Regions from separate parts of the Homo sapiens genome. Here region 1 is linked to region 2. The links come from fine-mapping of genetic effects on gene expression. Tissue or cell type: whole blood. Region 2 holds a variant in brackets; the other region holds the start of a gene. All regions are shown on one strand. Distances are between the middles of the regions.

The links. PIP is the estimated chance that this variant, and not a neighbour inherited with it, causes the effect.
Region 1: it holds the start of HBM, and the variant in region 2 is fine-mapped to the expression of HBM in whole blood (INTERVAL, PIP 0.98).

Annotation. Positions count from the first base shown.
Region 1 is chr16:161,895-169,894 of GRCh38, forward strand. It overlaps HBM (hemoglobin subunit mu), which reads left to right and starts at 4,084. Exons shown (of 3, transcript NM_001003938.4): 1 at 4,084-4,195; 2 at 4,374-4,578; 3 at 4,686-4,870. The coding sequence starts at 4,104. The coding sequence ends at 4,814. LOC107983982 (a long non-coding RNA gene) reads left to right here. Exons shown (of 3, transcript XR_001752047.1): 2 at 599-663; 3 at 742-1,027. It also overlaps the pseudogene HBZP1 and the pseudogene HBAP1. RefSeq lists an enhancer at 1,891-2,391.
Region 2 is chr16:115,094-123,093 of GRCh38, forward strand. It overlaps NPRL3 (NPR3 like, GATOR1 complex subunit), which reads right to left. Exons shown (of 14, transcript NM_001077350.3): 4 at 4,033-4,162; 5 at 2,208-2,282. Among named protein-coding and RNA genes, the nearest start is that of NPRL3, 20 kb to the right of the region's middle. RefSeq lists an enhancer at 1-966. The variant G/C (reference allele first, on the strand shown) is at 4,984.

The sequences.
Region 1 (8,000 bases), 47 kb after region 2:
TGTGCATGGGCCGGGCACGGTGGTTCACGCTCATAATCCCAGCTCTTTCAGAGGCCGAGGCAGGCAGATCACCTGAGGTCAAGAGTTCGACACCAGCCTGGCCAACATGGTGAAATTCCATCTGTACTAAAAATACAAAAATTAGCCAGGCCGTGGTGGTGTGTGCCTGTAATCCCAGCTACTCAGGAGACTGAAGCAGGAGAATCACTTGAACCCAGGAGGCAGAGGTTGCAGTGGGTCAAAATCATGCCACCACACTCCAGTCTGGGAGACAGAGCAAGACTCCATCTCAGAAACAAACTAACAAACAAAATTTTTATATCTACCTATAATTCGTATAAATTTAAAATACATGCATAAAATCATACCCTTTGCAAGCACACGTACTAACTAAAAGGAATATATTCAGCACATAGAAATGGTTGTCTAACGGAGGAGGGGGGAGTTAATAAACAGAGAGGATAAAAAGAAATAAATCAGTAGAGCTGGAGGAGGGTCTCCTCCAGGCTGCGATGAGAACATAGTGAGCAGAATTGCAGGCCTGCATGACCTCACCTTCTGTGAGGAGTCCGGCCTCCCAAGACGCTTTCCTGCCTAGGTGCCCGGCTCAGAGTGTCCCCTACAAGGCTACTGGAGGAGAACCCCAGACCGAGCCTCATTCAGGTGAGGGGGCTGCACACCGGAGGTGGGAGAGGTCTGTCCCTTCCCACCCTGTGACACTGGGTCCCACTTTCTCTCTAGGGGGTCTCGGTTTCCTCATTTGCAAACTGGAGCTCATAAGGTGGGCCAGAGAAGTTTCAGTGAAGTGAGGAATGGATCGTCCCTCTGCCAGGGCCCATGTGCTCTAGGTCACCCTGTCATCACAGGGACAGGGAGGTCAAGGACAGTCACTCCTGAGGCCAGTCCGGGCTGGGCTGACCACGTGGACTCTCATGCCCAGATTGGGGCCCCAATCTCCCTGAAGCTGGGGCTCCAGCTGTGACTCAGGGGTGGGCAGAAGGGGAGACAGAAGCGATAGGTTCCTCAGCCCCCAGTCCCACCTGAGGGCCCCTTTGTCACTGGATCTGATAAGAAACACCACCCCTGCAGCCCCCTCCCCTCACCTGACCAATGGCCACAGCCTGGCTGGGCCCAGCTCCCTGTATATAAGGGGACCCTGGGGGCTGAGCACTACCAAGGCCAGTCCTGAGCAGGCCCAACTCCAGTGCAGCCGCCCACCCTGCCGCCATGTCTCTGACCAAGACTTAGGGGACCATCATTGTGTCCATGTGGGCCAAGATCTCCACGCAGGCCGACACCATCGGCACCGAGACTCTGGAGAGGTGAGTGTCAGATGGGACTGCCAGAGGGACTGGGTGGGAGGCCAGGTATGTGAGTGGGGACAGTGGGGAGCGGGCAGTGGGGAGGGGACCGTGGGGAGGGGACAGTGAGTAGGAGACAGTGGGGAGAGGACAGTGGAGAGGGGACAGTGAGGAGGGGACCATGGGAAGGGGACCGTGGAGTGGGGACAGTGAGGAGGGGACCATAGGGAGGGGACAGTGGGGAGGGGACAGTGAGGAGGGGACCGTGGGGAGGGGACAGTGAGGAGGGGACCGTGGGGAGGAGACAGTGAGGAGGGGACCGTAGGGAGGGGACAGTGAGGAGGGGACCGTGGGGAGGGGACAGTGAGGAGGGGACCGTGGGGAGGGGACAGTGAGGAGGGGACCGTGGGAAGGAGACAGTGAGGAGGGGACCTTGGGGAGGGGACAGTGAGGAGGGGACCATGGGGAGGGGACAGTGAGGAGGGGACAATGGAGAGGGGACAGTGAGGAGGGGACTGTGGGGAGAGGACAGTGAGGAGGGGACCATGGGGAGGGCACAGTGGGGAGGGGAGAGTGAGGAAGGGACAGTGAGGAGGGGACTGTGGGGAGGGGACAGTGGAGACAGATAGCCTTCCCTCTCAGTGAGGAGGGCAGGGTAAGGAGGGAACGATTAGGAGTTGCACAACCATCTGGGCTCGCTGAGACCTGGGCAGGCACAGGCCCAGGTTCTGACAAGCAGAGGGTGAAAGGTTTCGTTCTAGGCCTGAAGGGCCTTACAGGGCAGCCAGGGCACTACAGCCTCTAAAGTCCCAGCATCTGGGATCAGGGCACTGTCCCAGCTTCAAATTCCCAGCATCTGATCCCCTGGGAGGGGCCAGGGAGCTTTTCCTTCCCTGGAACGCTGCTGGGAGGTCATGAGCCTGCAGAAGGGGTGGCGGGCAACCCAGTCTGGGGCTGGGAGGGAGGTCCTGTGGCCAGAGGAGACGGTGGAGGGGCTGGGGGCACCAGGCGTGCTGGAGGCGGAGGGCGGGAGATTTGGGGACCAGGCTGCACAGAACCCGTCGGAAGCAGGGCGATCAGCCGGGAGCTGCAGAGGCCTGGGGGGCCTCTAGCCCAGGGCAGCCTGGGAGGGGCAGCTGCCTGGGCACCCGGGCCCCGCGAGGAGGGGCTGGGGCCTGCTGCGGGGTCGCAGATGTGTCCCGGTGCTCGGAGAGGGCCGCAGGGCGCGTGGGCCGTGGCGGGAGGCCGCGCTGCTGGGAGCTCACGGCCCCCGCCCCCCGTCCCAGGCTCTTCCTCAGCCACCCGCAGACCAAGACCTACTTCCCGCACTTCGACCTGCACCCGGGGTCCGCGCAGTTGCGCGCGCACGGCTCCAAGGTGGTGGCCGCCGTGGGCGACGCGGTGAAGAGCATCGACGACATCGGCGGCGCCCTGTCCAAGCTGAGCGAGCTGCACGCCTACATCCTGCGCGTGGACCCGGTCAACTTCAAGGTGCGCGGGGCGCGGTGCGGGCGGGGCGGGGCGGGGCCGCGGGGCGGGCGGGGCCGCGGGGCGGGGTCGCGGGGCGGGGCGGGGTGGGGTCGCGGGGCGGGGCGGGGTCGCGGGGCGGGGCGGGGCGGGGCGGGGCGGGCGGGGCGGCCGGGGCCCGGCGGGGCGGGGCGGGGCGGGGAGGGGCTGGGCGGGGCGGGGCGCGGGGCGGGGCGGGCCGGGCCGGGGCGGGGTCGCGGGGCGGGGTCGCGGGGCGGGGCGCGGGGCGGGGCGGGGCGGGGTGGGGTCGCGGGGCGGGGCCCGGGCTAGGCCCCGCCCCCGCACTGAGCCGCCCCCGCCCCCAGCTCCTGTCCCACTGCCTGCTGGTCACCCTGGCCGCGCGCTTCCCCGCCGACTTCACGGCCGAGGCCCACGCCGCCTGGGCCAAGTTCCTATCGGTCGTATCCTCTGTCCTGACCGAGAAGTACCGCTGAGCGCCGCCTCCGGGACCCCCAGGACAGGCTGCGGCCCCTCCCCTGCCCTTCACCCTCCCACAGTTCCTGCCCTGACTCCAATAAATGGATGAGGACGGAGCGATCTGGGCTCTGTGTTCTCAGTATTGGAGGGAAGGAGGGGAGAAGCTGAGTGATGGGTCCGGGGGCTTCGCAGGAACTCGGTCGTCCCCACTGTCGTCGCGGCCTGGGGTTCACTTGGGGGGCGCCTTGGGGAGGTTCTAGCCCCTGAGCACCGGAGCTGCGGCCCGGGTGGAGCGGAGCAGTCCCGGGCCGGCCCGCGGCGTCTCCTGGGGTCCTTGAGTCGGACGGGCGTTTGTGCGTCTCCCGGCTTCCCATATCGCACAAAGATTGTCACTTCACTAAGCGTATTGGAAGCGTGTCGGGGCTCAGGGAACTTTTCCACAAAGCCTGACGTCCGAATCCCGGGACTCTGGCAGCTACGGGGGTCCCTGAGGCCGGTCCCTCCCCGACTCCTAAGAGAGTAGGGGGTTTCCTGCCCGGTGTTCTCTCTCCGGTTCCTCCCATGTGCTCCCTCCTGGCAGAGCAGTAACTTTACCCGAGGGGAGTAAACAGATGCCCCTAAAGTCTGCAGTAAAGGTGCCCACGCGCAACGGCGTGGGTCAATGCCAGAAACCCTGGGATCCCGGAGGTCGAGGCCTCCACACAGACGGGAACCCGGGCTGGTTACGTTCCCCGGCGCAGGCCGAGGGTCCCCGCGTTCCCGCCGCGCTCGGGCCGATAAGGACGGGCGGGGTGCCCGGAGGCTCTATAAGGAGGCCAGGGCGGCGGGCGCGGCCCCCAGAGCACGTCAGGCGGCGCCATGCTCAGCGCCCAGGAGCGCGCCCAAATCGCGCAGGTCTGGGACCTGATTGCGGGCCACGAGGCGCAATTCGGGGCGGAGCTGCTGCTCAGGTCGGTAGAGGCGGGGTCTCCGGGAGCTCAGGGAGGTGGAGATGAGGGTTTTGGGCGCGTGGGCCGCCAACGCCATCCAAGGTCCTTCGGGTGCGGATCCCCGGGCTCTGGGCGGTGTGGGCGCTAGTGAAGCCCCACGCAGCCGCCCTCCTCCCCGGTCACTGACCTGGTCCTGCAGGCTCTTCACGGTGTACCCCAGCACCAAGGTCTACTTCCCGCACCTGAGCGCCTGCCAGGACGCGACGCAGCTGCTGAGCCACGGGCAGCGCATGCTGGCGGCTGTGGGCGCGGCGGTGCAGCACGTGGACAACCTGCGCGCCGCGCTGAGCCCGCTGGCGGACCTGCACGCGCTCGTGCTGCGCGTGGACCCAGCCAACTTTCCGGTGAGGCCTTTCCGGCCGGGGCAATGGTGCAGCGCGCAGCCGGGGTGGGGGGGCTCTGGGGGTCCCTAGCGGGGCAGACCCCGTCTCACCGGCCCCTTCTCCTGCAGCTGCTAATCCAGTGTTTCCACGTCGTGCTGGCCTCCCACCTGCAGGACGAGTTCACCGTGCAAATGCAAGCGGCGTGGGACAAGTTCCTGACTGGTGTGGCCGTGGTGCTGACCGAAAAATACCGCTGAGCCCTGTGCTGCGCAGGCCTTGGTCTGTGCCTGTCAATAAACAGAGGCCCGAACCATCTGCCCCTGCCTGTGTGGTCTTTGGGGAGCTAGCAAAGCGAGGTCACTATTGTTGGCCAGTGAAGCTCAGGGACCTAAAAGGAGCCTCCTAGAACTCTCAAATGCGCCCCACCCCCGGAGGTTTGTCCTCCCATGGCGAGGAGTGCGATGGGGCAGAGGGAGCACTGTGATGTGGCGGGGGTAGGGAGGGTGGCCTTCGACTTCAACCCTTGAATCGGGCTTCCAACCATACTGTTCGCAAAGCACTTCCCCATTCACGCATTTATTCATTCATTCTCCCTCCATCCCCACTTCCTGCTGGGACCTGTAGATGCTAATCCTGGCCCTTTTTGCAGAGAGATGCAGAAACTGAGGTCCCAGAGCCAAATGTGCAACCTAATTCGTTGGCCCAGAGCAGAGGGCTCCGCAGACCTGTTCCTTTCCCCTTCCTTCCCCCATGGACACTTCCTCAGTGGCAAACCTGCGCTAGCCTGGTTAGCCCTCCCTGTGACCCTGCAGCCCTGGGGATGAGGTCGGGAGGAAGTCCTCAGTGGCCACAATTTGGCAGACAGAGCAGGTTTAGTCTTCCAGCCTGCTCAATGACAAGCTGTGCGACCCTGGGCGTGTCCCAGAGCTCTCAGGCCTTTACCTATCGAATAGAAAAACAACGTCCAACTCACGAGATTTTTGAAATAATTTTTGAAATCATAACACAGGGTGGGTGCCTGCAGGGTCGTTGCCACCCCACCCCTCCACCCAGCCCCAGCTGCCGTGTCTCAATCTCTGCAGGTGCCCAGGCCAAGGCACTCCCTTCCCCAGGTTCCCTCTTCTCCCTCCCCAGGACTGGGAAGGGAATCTTAGGGCTCCACCCCAGGCTTTTCAGACAAAGAATAGGGGCTGAGGAAAGAGTGGGACCTTGGAGGTCTCCAAACCCTGAATAGGGTTGGCTCTGGGTTGGCCATCCTGGGTCTGTGTGGGGAGCACTGGACCAGGCCTGGCACCCAGGTCTGACCTGGCAGTCAGCAACGAGGTCTGAAGAGAGCTGCTGGAAGTGGAGCCCTGACTGTGAGTCGGCCAAACTCCCCCCAGCAGTCAGTGCCAGTGACCTGTTGCCCTGCACTGCCTGGGACCCCAGCCCGGTAGTTTGGAGAACTTGGCCCCACGTTATCTACATCCCCCAACTGTTTTTTTGTTTTTGGGGGTTTTTTTTTTTTTTGCTTTGTTTTTGTTTTTGAGATAGGCCCTTGCTCTGACACCCCGGCTGGAGTGCAGTGGCACAGTTTTGGCTCACTGCAGCCTCAACCTCCTGGGTTCAAGCGATTCTCCTGCCTCTGTCTCCCGTGTAGCTGGGATTACAGGCATGGGCCGCCATTCCTGGCTAATTTTTGTATTTTTAATAGAGACACAGTTTCACCATGTTGATCAGGCTGGTCTCAAACTCCTGACCTCAAGTGATCTGCCCTCCTCGGTCTCCCAAAGTGCTGGGATGACAGGCGTGAGCCACCACACCCAGCCCCCGCAACTGTTTACATGGATAATTAACAGCTTTTTGTCCCAGGCAGAGTTTGGTGTGAAAGCAGCTTATGTTTCACTTTGGAAAAACTGTGCTCTTCTCCCCATCCAGGAAGCTGCCTGGGTCTGGGCCATATGTGGATACCTTATGGGTATAAGCTGCTCAGGACCCTGTGTGGAAGCTCAGGACAATGCCAGCGGGAAGGCTACCATGTGGAGAGCTGGTCTCTGTTTGGGCAGGACTAAGAGACGCAGGGCAGCCTTGGGCAACCTGTCTACTCTCACTCACTCCTCCTCCCCTTTCCTGTGCCAGGCACCTCCTGGCAACTTGCCAGCCAATGACCCTGCATCCCAGGCATAAGAGCTCCTACTCTCCCCCACCTTTCACTTTTGAGCTTACACAGACTCAGAAATAAGCTGCCGTGGTGCTGTCTCCTGAGGACAAGGCTAACACCAAGGCGGTCTGGGAGAAAGTTGGCAACCACACTGCTGGCTATGCCACGGAGGCCCTGGAGAGGCAAGAACCCTCCTCTCCCTGCTCACACCTTGGGTCCAACGCCCACTCCAGGGCTCCACTGGCCACCCCTAACTATTCTTACCCTGGACCCAGCCCCCAGCCCCTCACTCTTTGCTTCCCCCTGAAGCATGTTCCTGACCTTCCTCTCACTTGGCCCTGAGTTATGGCTCAGCCCAGATCAAGAAACAATGCAAGTAGGTGGCCGACACGCTGACCAATGCCGTGGTCCACTTAGATGACATGCCCAATGATGTGTCTGAGCTGAGGAAGCTGCATGTCCACGAGCTGTGGGTGGACCCAGGCAACATCAGGGAGAGCTTTGGGCTGGGAGGAATCTAGGGTGTGGGGGCAGCTGGCCTTCCTCATAGGACAGACCCTCCCACGCGTTCAGGGAGGTGGAGCACAGGTGGCAGTAGTATCTGCATCCCCTGACTCTCTCTCCACAGTTCCTGGGTAAATGCCTGCTGGTGACCTAGGCCTGCCACACCCTTCCCAGTTTACCCATGTGGTGCCTCCATGGACAAATTATTTGCTTTTGTGAGTGCTGTGTTGACCTAAAAACACCATTAAGCTAGAGCATTGGTGGTCATGCCCCCTGCCTGCTGGGCCTCCCACCAGGCCCTCCTCCCCTCCCTGCCCCAGCACTTCCTGATCTTTGAATGAAGTCCGAGTAGGCAGCAGCCTGTGTGTGCCTGGGTTCTCTCTGTCCCGGAATGTGCCAACAGTGGAGGTGTTTACCTGTCTCAGACCAAGGACCTCTCTGCAGCTGCATGGGGCTGGGGAGGGAGAACTGCAGGGAGTATGGGAGGGGAAGCTGAGGTGGGCCTGCTCAAGAGAAGGTGCTGAACCATCCCCTGTCCTGAGAGGTGCCAGGCCTGCAGGCAGTGGCTCAGAAGCTGGGGAGGAGAGAGGCATCCAGGGTTCTACTCAGGGAGTCCCAGCATCGCCACCCTCCTTTGAAATCTCCCTGGTTGAACCCAGTTAACATACGCTCTCCATCAAAACAAAACGAAACAAAACAAACTAGCAAAATAGGCTGTCCCCAATGCAAGTGCAGGTGCCAGAACATTTCTCTCATTCTCACCCCTTCCTGCCAGAGGGTAGGTGGCTGGAGTGAGGGT
Region 2 (8,000 bases):
CCTCCCAGGTAGCTGGGACTACAGGCGCACATCATCATGCCTGGCTAATTTTTGTATTTTTTGTAGAGATGGGGTTTCGCTATGTTGCCCAGGCTGGTGTCAAACTCCTGGGCTCAAGTGATCCACCCACCTTGGCCTCCCGAAGTGCTAGGAATACAGGAGTGAGCCACTGTGCCTGGACAAAAGTGTATATTTTAAAAAGAAAGAATATATATTTAAAATGACAAAAGTGTATATTTTAAAAAGAAAGAATATATATTTAAAATGACAAAAGTATATATTTTAAAAAGAAAGACTTGTCCACCCAAAAAATACAAACTCTTTACATTATCAAAATTTCTCCTACTCGTCAATATCACGGCCAGCTGAAGTCCTAGACTATCTTGTTTCCTGTTGCTTTTTTTTTTTTGAGCTGGAGTTTCGCTCTTGTTGCCCAGATTGGAGTGCAATGGTGCGATCTCTGCTCACTGCAACCTCCGCCTCCCGGATTCAACCGATTCTACTGCCTCAGCCTCCTGAGTAGCTGGAATTACAGGTGTCCACCACCACACCTGGCTAATTTTGTATTTTTTAGTAGAGACGGGGTATCTCCATGCTGGTCAGCCTGCTCTCAAACTCCTGATCTCAGGTGATCCGCCCGCTTCAGCCTCCCAAAGTGCTGGTATTACAGGCGTAAGCATTTGTGCTCGGCTCCGGTTGCTTTTACCTGTCCGTAATCAATCTATACTTCTCCAGGTTCTGGTCTGATCTCCATTTCTCACCCTTGATGGCAAGAGGATGGGCCAGTGTATAATAATCACCACATTGTTTAATCACTCCCCAACTACTACACACTATGATTATCTCCAGTTTAATTATTGTTATAAAAATCTTTATTCTTGCTGAGAACAAGCCTGGGGGAAATCTTTACGCAGTTGTAAAAGTTGCTTGTTTTTCTTGATAATACTCCTAACAGTGGGACTGCTAGATCTAAGGGCATCATATGCTATGCTGTCAAACACTACTCCCCGAGGTGAGGGCCTGCCTACAGCATCCTGGAAACACTATTCCCCGAGGTGAGGGCCTGCTTACAGCATCCTGCAAACACTGTTCCCCGAGGTGAGGGCCTGCCTACAGCATCCTGGGTGGGGCTGTGGCTGCGTTTCATCAACTGTCCCACAGGGGTTATCGGTGTTGACAGGTGGACAACATTCGTCATGGATTTTGTTTACTCCTTTGCTTGTTTTTTTACTTAATTCATTTTTCTTTGTGGCGCTTTATATTATGTAATTATGTAAGAAATACAAAGATGCTATGAAAATGCAAATACTACAAAAGTGTATCAAGCAGAAAGTGAAGAACTTCTCCCAGAACCCTGTACCCCAGGAGCCATTAACAAATCATTTTGTTTTAATTTGTAGTTCCTTATTTATCAACAAGGCAGGCCTGTCTTAAAAATTAAGCTCCAGCTGGGCATAGTGGCTCACACCTGGAATCCCAGCACTTTGGGTGGCCAAGGAGGGAAGACCATTTGAGACCAGGAGTTCAAGATCAGCCAGGGCAATAAGGTGAAAACTCATCTCTACAAAAAATACAAAAATTAGCAGGGGCAGGGCACAGTGGCTCACGCCTGTAATCCCAGCAGTCTGGGAGGCCAAGGTGGGTGGATCACCTAAGGTCACGAGTTCAAGACCAGCATGGCCAACATGGCGAGACCCCCCCCCCCCACCGATCTCTACTAAAAATACAAAAATTAGCTGGGCGTGGTGGCGCACACCTGTAATCCCAGCTACTCGGGAGGCTGAGGCAGGAGACTCACTTGAGCTTGGGAGGCAGGGGTTGCATTGAGCCAAGATTGCGCTACTACACTCCAGCCTGGGTGACACAGCGAGATTCTGTCTCAAAAAAAAAAAAGAGAATAACTGCTAATGGGTATGGGGTTTCCTTCTGGGGTGGTGAAAGTGTTCTGGATCTAGATAGTGGTGATGGTTATACAACATGAATGTACCAGATGCCACTGAAGCATAGACTTCAAAATGACAAATAGTGTTATGTGTATTTTACCAAAACAAAAAGGGGTAAACAATGAAGTGCAGTCTGCCTGCACCCCAGGAGGGGCCAGCCCGCTGCAGTCCAAGCTCCGAGTCAATGACACGCTCGTTGGAAAAAAAGAGCTGCTTCTCCACTGGCCCCACTCCCTGATCTTAACCATTTATATAAACACTCACCCTCAGTGCAAACACCACATTAAAAAGAATCATAGTAGGTGCTTCCCTCTTCGGGGAAGGATCTGTTTTGGAGATCTGTAAAAGATGCATAATTCTAATTAATTGAGACGACTTTCTAAGGAAAGCTGTTTAGAGCTATTCTACTTCAGGCATGGCAAAAGTCCCCAGAATACAGCACCAAGGTCTTGGAAAAGCAATGAATGCCTTTGCTCTGGAGGCGTGCCTACTGCATGGGCAAAGTCACAACTATGACAAGAGTGGGAAGGTCAGTGCTCTGACCCCCTCGCCCCCCCGCTAACAGAAGTGAGCTGACAATGCCCACAGGGGACGAGATGGAGAGGGGCATAAATGGGTGGAGGACCCAGACCCACACCCCCACTGCCTTCCCGTGCCCGCCTGCATCCACCAGGCTGTATCTGCTAAGTATGACGCATACTCAGAACAATTGAGGGACAGGACGATGTTCAGGGACAGCCAAGCCCTGAGCAGGGCCCAGGTGAGGCAGGCCAGCAAGTCCTAATTTCTGTGCTCCCGGTTCTGGCATCCAGCCAGCTTCACAAGGACCAGGGCGCTCAAGGGAAGCATTCCAAGGGGCACGGGGGAACTCTTCAAAGCCAACTACAAGTTCTGCCACCAGGGGGAGTTGGGGCCCCAGGCTGCCCTGGCACCCATCCCCTACCCCTGACTGCCACTCCTGTCTACAGGGTGTGACCGCGGGCAGGCTGCCAACTCTCCCCTTCATTGCCTACAGGTAGGGGACTGTGCCCCAGCTGTGGAGGCTGTGATGAGAAGGGAGGGTGCGGTACAGGGGACCAGGCTCATCAACCGCCTCAGAAACTCCTTCCATGGAGGTTCACGAATAACACCACAGAACCTCCCAGAATTGCTGGATCTGTATAAATGTAGCTAAATCCTACGTTACTGTGTTCGACCCTTCAGAATCTTAGTAATGCCATCACTGATCCTGCCTGTATGCAGAGAGCTGACTGGCAGGCTCTGGTGTACAAGTTCCCTTCATCCTGCTAACAAGATGAGTTCCTCAGTGCTATGACACCTATTCATCAAGAGAACATATAGAGAGGGTTTAGCAGAAAAATAAGTGCTAAATAATACTAATATTAGCTACTAGAGTGTCTTGTAATAAATAAGAGGAAATGCTTGCACCACACTGTAGAAAATTCAAGGGTTTCACGATGCTAGTTAACTCACTATCTTGGCCTCCCCTGGAAACAGACATCCTACATATGAAGGGGAGGGCCACAGTCAGTAGAGACCTAGAATGCAGACTGTAAAAGCTAGGGACAGGGACTGAAGCACCTGTCTTCAGGGGCAAGAACACCTGTCTCTTTTTCTACTGGACTCTCTGGGTTTATGAAGATGCACAGTTCATACCAAGTGTCTAATCAGGTCTCCTGCCCAGTACCTTCACCAGAGCTGGTGTCAGCCTCAGTTCTGAGCCCCCCAGAGCCAGAATGGACCAGGCCTGCCGGCCCAGGGAGAGCCACATCTGCCCAGAGGGTCTGTGCATGCCCAGGGAGAACCCCACCTGCCCAAGGACAGACGCATCTGCCCAGGGGAAGCCACACCTGCCCAGGGGGAGCCACACCTTCCCAGAGGGTCTGTACCTGCCCAGGGGAAGCCACATCTGCCCAGGGGAAGCCAAATCTACCCAGGGGGAGCCCCACCTGCCCAAGGAGAGCCACACCTGCCCAGGGGAAGCCACACCTGCCCAAGGAGAGCCACACCTGCCCAAGGAGAGCCACACCTGCCCAAGGAGAGCCACATCTGCCCAGGGAGAGCCCCACCTGCCCAGGGAGAGCCATACCTGCCCCAGAGCATGCTGTAGCAGTGTTGGGTGCCCAACAAATCGCACATTATCAATCTTCAGTTCAAATTTTTGGCCACACATTTCAGACTTGGTTGCCAAAATTGTTGCCAGAATAACATCTGAAAACCTTAAAATTTAAGAGAGGTAGAATAAAAATAAGTTAACAAAATACCACAGCACCATGCCCTGCTGGCCCCAGAGCGGAAGGGTCTCAGTAAACTGCACCTTCATGGAGTTGCTCTGCCCCGACTGCTGGTGGAAGCTACTAACAGTTGCCCTTCTGTAGCAATCCCAGAGGTTATGGATGTAAGATCACCAGAATTACAAGGTAAAAGGCATGAGAAGCACAGACTGAAGGCACATGCTGTCATTTTTTGGCATGCTCTATTAAATTCAGGAGAGAAACAGTTGCAGTTTGCTTTCAAAGGGAGGATCAGCTGGAGCCGGCACTGCCCTGCGGAGCTGCTCTTTAAAGTTCACAGGCAGAGGGGCCTCTCCCAGTTACACTCAGGTTTGCTGTGCTGCACCTTCAACTCCCAGGACCCAGGCCCTTCACCCACAGAGCGGCCCTTCACCCAAAGAGCCGCGTGGAGGGCAAGGGGACAGTGCACAGGGATGCGTGCAGAGCGCTGACTTCCTTCCTCATAGCATGGCTGCCCATCCGTTCCCTTATCCCAAACACTTAAACTTTCCGGTTTTTATCAGGGAAGAAGCTTTGTGCAAGATGTGCAAGCCCACTGTGATCACAGCTATTTCCAAATGGCAGAAATACCAGGTTGCACACAACTGGGTGCCACGGAGAAGTGGGTGCAGCTGTGGTGTGGGAGGGAGGGCATCCCTTTTCCCCTTTTCAAGGTCATCTGTGCCCTTCTGTCTCCTTACTGGCAATGCTGATGCCTCCTGCCTGGGGAGATCTGGATAAGGGAGTGTCACCTGCAGGGGTGCTGT[G/C]GGTGGTGCTGACTCTTATCTCAGAGTCCAGGGCTCTGAGGGCCTCCGCTCTAGAAACACAAATGTACTACCTCTGATCTGGACCCAGAAGAGAGAGAAGTCCCATACATATCTCTCCACCCAGGAAAAATATATCTAATATCTAGGTCAGGAGGGTGCACTCTCTTGGGGAAGCTCTAGCCTCCGCAGGGCCATACTCTGCCCCTGGGCAGGGAGACCCCTAAGGTCCTAGAAGAGACCACTGAGGACAGACATTCTAGGGTGCAAACCTGGTCATGCTTCTTCCCCAGAGGCCCTCTTGGTGAAGGGATGGGAGAGACTGACATAACTCCTCCATGTTGTGATGAAAAAGGAAGGCCTGCTTTGAACTGCACTGTAGCTCAGCTCTGTAATAGCAAATGGCAAGTAGCTACATGATTCTTTCCAAGTCTATCATGGGCTGTGGGGCTCAGACTGTTTTCCAGCCTTCCTCCTGAACTGGCACGACCCTCTAACCATCCGAAGTCACCCTAGGCTCACAAACAAACCACATACGAGGGTTTGGTCAAACCTATTTGTGCCATTTGGAAATAGCCTCTCAACCCAGTCAGGTTGCAGTTGGACCTTCTGAAATCAATCTTGTTAGAGTTATCCTGGGAAACGCAGGACCCACAGCCAAGTCCTCAGCAGCCCACTGCAGGTCTCTCCTGCAGAGATGGAGGATTCAAGTGCCTTACACCACAGGCATAATATGCTTTCTTCAAAAACCCTAAATGGCTCACTCTGTTCTATAACTCCCATCTGTGGGACATGGTAATGTTGAAGGAGGGTTTGAGGTATTAAAACGCCACCAAACACTTCTGCTCTAGCAACTGACCCAGGGCCAACGCCTCACATCCTATCTAAACAGTGCCCCTCCACTCTGCCACCCAGTGACTCAGGGGACACAGAGGTAACAGAAAAATAACCACCACCACTCCAGAAAGGTCCCTTGCTCTGACAGCCCAAAATCTCCACTAAAAACTGCTGCTCTGTCATAAAGAGTCACAGCCATGTCTCAGCCTCAGCCCTCAGGCACCAGTCCAGGGACCAAATTTAGTTTGGCTGTGAGATGGTCCCTGGGATTCTCAGAGGCAAGCAGTGGTAGCCCAGTTCGCGTTTATAAATACCTAAACTTCAAGGCGCCCTCACAACAGCCAAATAAAAGGCTCTTTCCCTGCTAGAGGCCAGGGTCTGCAGAGACGGCCAACTGGAAATCTGTGAGCTGAAGTAAAAAGGCACACTGGGCCAGGCGTGGTGGCTCACACCTGTCATCCCAGCACTTTGGGAGGCTGAAGTGGGTGGATCACCCGAGGTCAGGAGTTCGAGACCAGCATGGCCAACATAATGAAACCCCCGTCTCTACTAAAAATACAAAAATTAGCCGGGCGCAGTGAAGCCTGTAGTCCCAGCTAGTCGGGAGGCTGAGGCAGGAGAATCGCTTGAACCTGGGCGGCAGAGGTTGCAGTGAGCGGAGATCGTGCCACTGCACTCCAGCCTGGGTGACAGAGCGAAACTCCGTCTCAAAAAAAAAAACAGTCACATTGACTTAGTGGCTGTTCATGGAGCCCTCTGAGGCAGCCAGCAGGGTGGTAGTTAGCCATTGTTTATCTGAGCAAATCTGGCCCACAGAGAAATCTACTCCCCACACCTTAATATTACAAACATATAATGACAAAACGCTTTTTTTTCTTTTTGAGACGAAGTCTTGCTCTTGTCCCCCAGGCTGGAGTGCAATGACGTAATCTCGGCTCACTGCAACCTCCGCCTCCCGAGTTCAAGCAATTCTCCTGCCTCAGCCTCCCGAGTAGCTGCGATTAGAGGCACCCGCCACCACGCCCAGCTAATTTTTGTATTTTTAGTAGAGACGGGGTTTCACCATGTTGGTCAGGCTGGTCTCGAACTCCTGACCTCAGGTGATCCGCCCGCCTCGGCCTCCCAAAGTGCTGGGATGACAGGCGTGAGCCACCACGCCCGGCCCCATGACAAAACAATTGAGCGGCTTTTTCTTTTCCCCCTTGAGATGGAGTCTTGCTCTGTCGCCCAGGCTGGAGTGTAATGGCGCAATCTCGGCTCACTGAAACCTCCGCCTCTTGGGTTCAAGCGATTCTACTGCCTCAGCCTCCCAAATATCTGGGATTACAGGCGCGTGCCACCAAGCCCGGCTAATTTTTCATATTTTTTAGTAGAGACAAGGTTTCACCACGTTGGCCAGGCTGGTCTCGACCTCCTGACCTCATGATCTGCCCACCTCGGCCTCCCAAAGTGCTGGGATGACAGGCATGAGCCACTGCACCCATCTGGCTTTATACTTTATATAGTCTGTCTGGTAATGTAATACACATAAAGACAGAGTTATATTCATGAGATTGGGGGTGGGGCAAAACTTATAAACAGCAAACTGAACCATAAACAAGTGTTGTTTTGTTTTATTGGCTTCCAACATTTATGAAAATCCTTTTCCCTCATTTTGATGGTGAAAGGCCTAATAAATGTACTGCAGCACAATAAAACATCTGTTACAAAAACTGAAGATTCCTGGAATAACTTGGAAATTCAAGAAAAACACATTTAGGAAGATGAACCAGCCCAGCCAGAAAACAGGCCAGGACCTTCTATCACTGCCGAGCTATTCTGGAGTAGGGTTTGCTCTCTAGCTTGGACAAAAAAAGGGATGGAAAGACATCCTGGAAGGGAGCTCAGTTCTGCTCCCCCCACCCACCTAAAGGGATGGAAAGACATCCTGGAGGGGAGCTCAACTCTGCTCGCCCCACCCACCTCCTTGCTGGAAGCTCACAGACACTGTGTGTACCTCCAAGGCCCAGAGGAGATGCACTGTCAAGGGGAATGGAAGAGTCGCCCGTCATCCGTGCCCTCCTGGACAAGCACCATATCAATTCCATGAGAACATTTCTGCCTCTATTAAGCACACTCAATAGCATCTAGGCCTGAGCATCACACTTAATGCCCAACCCTTGGGAGAGGCCCCCACAAAACCC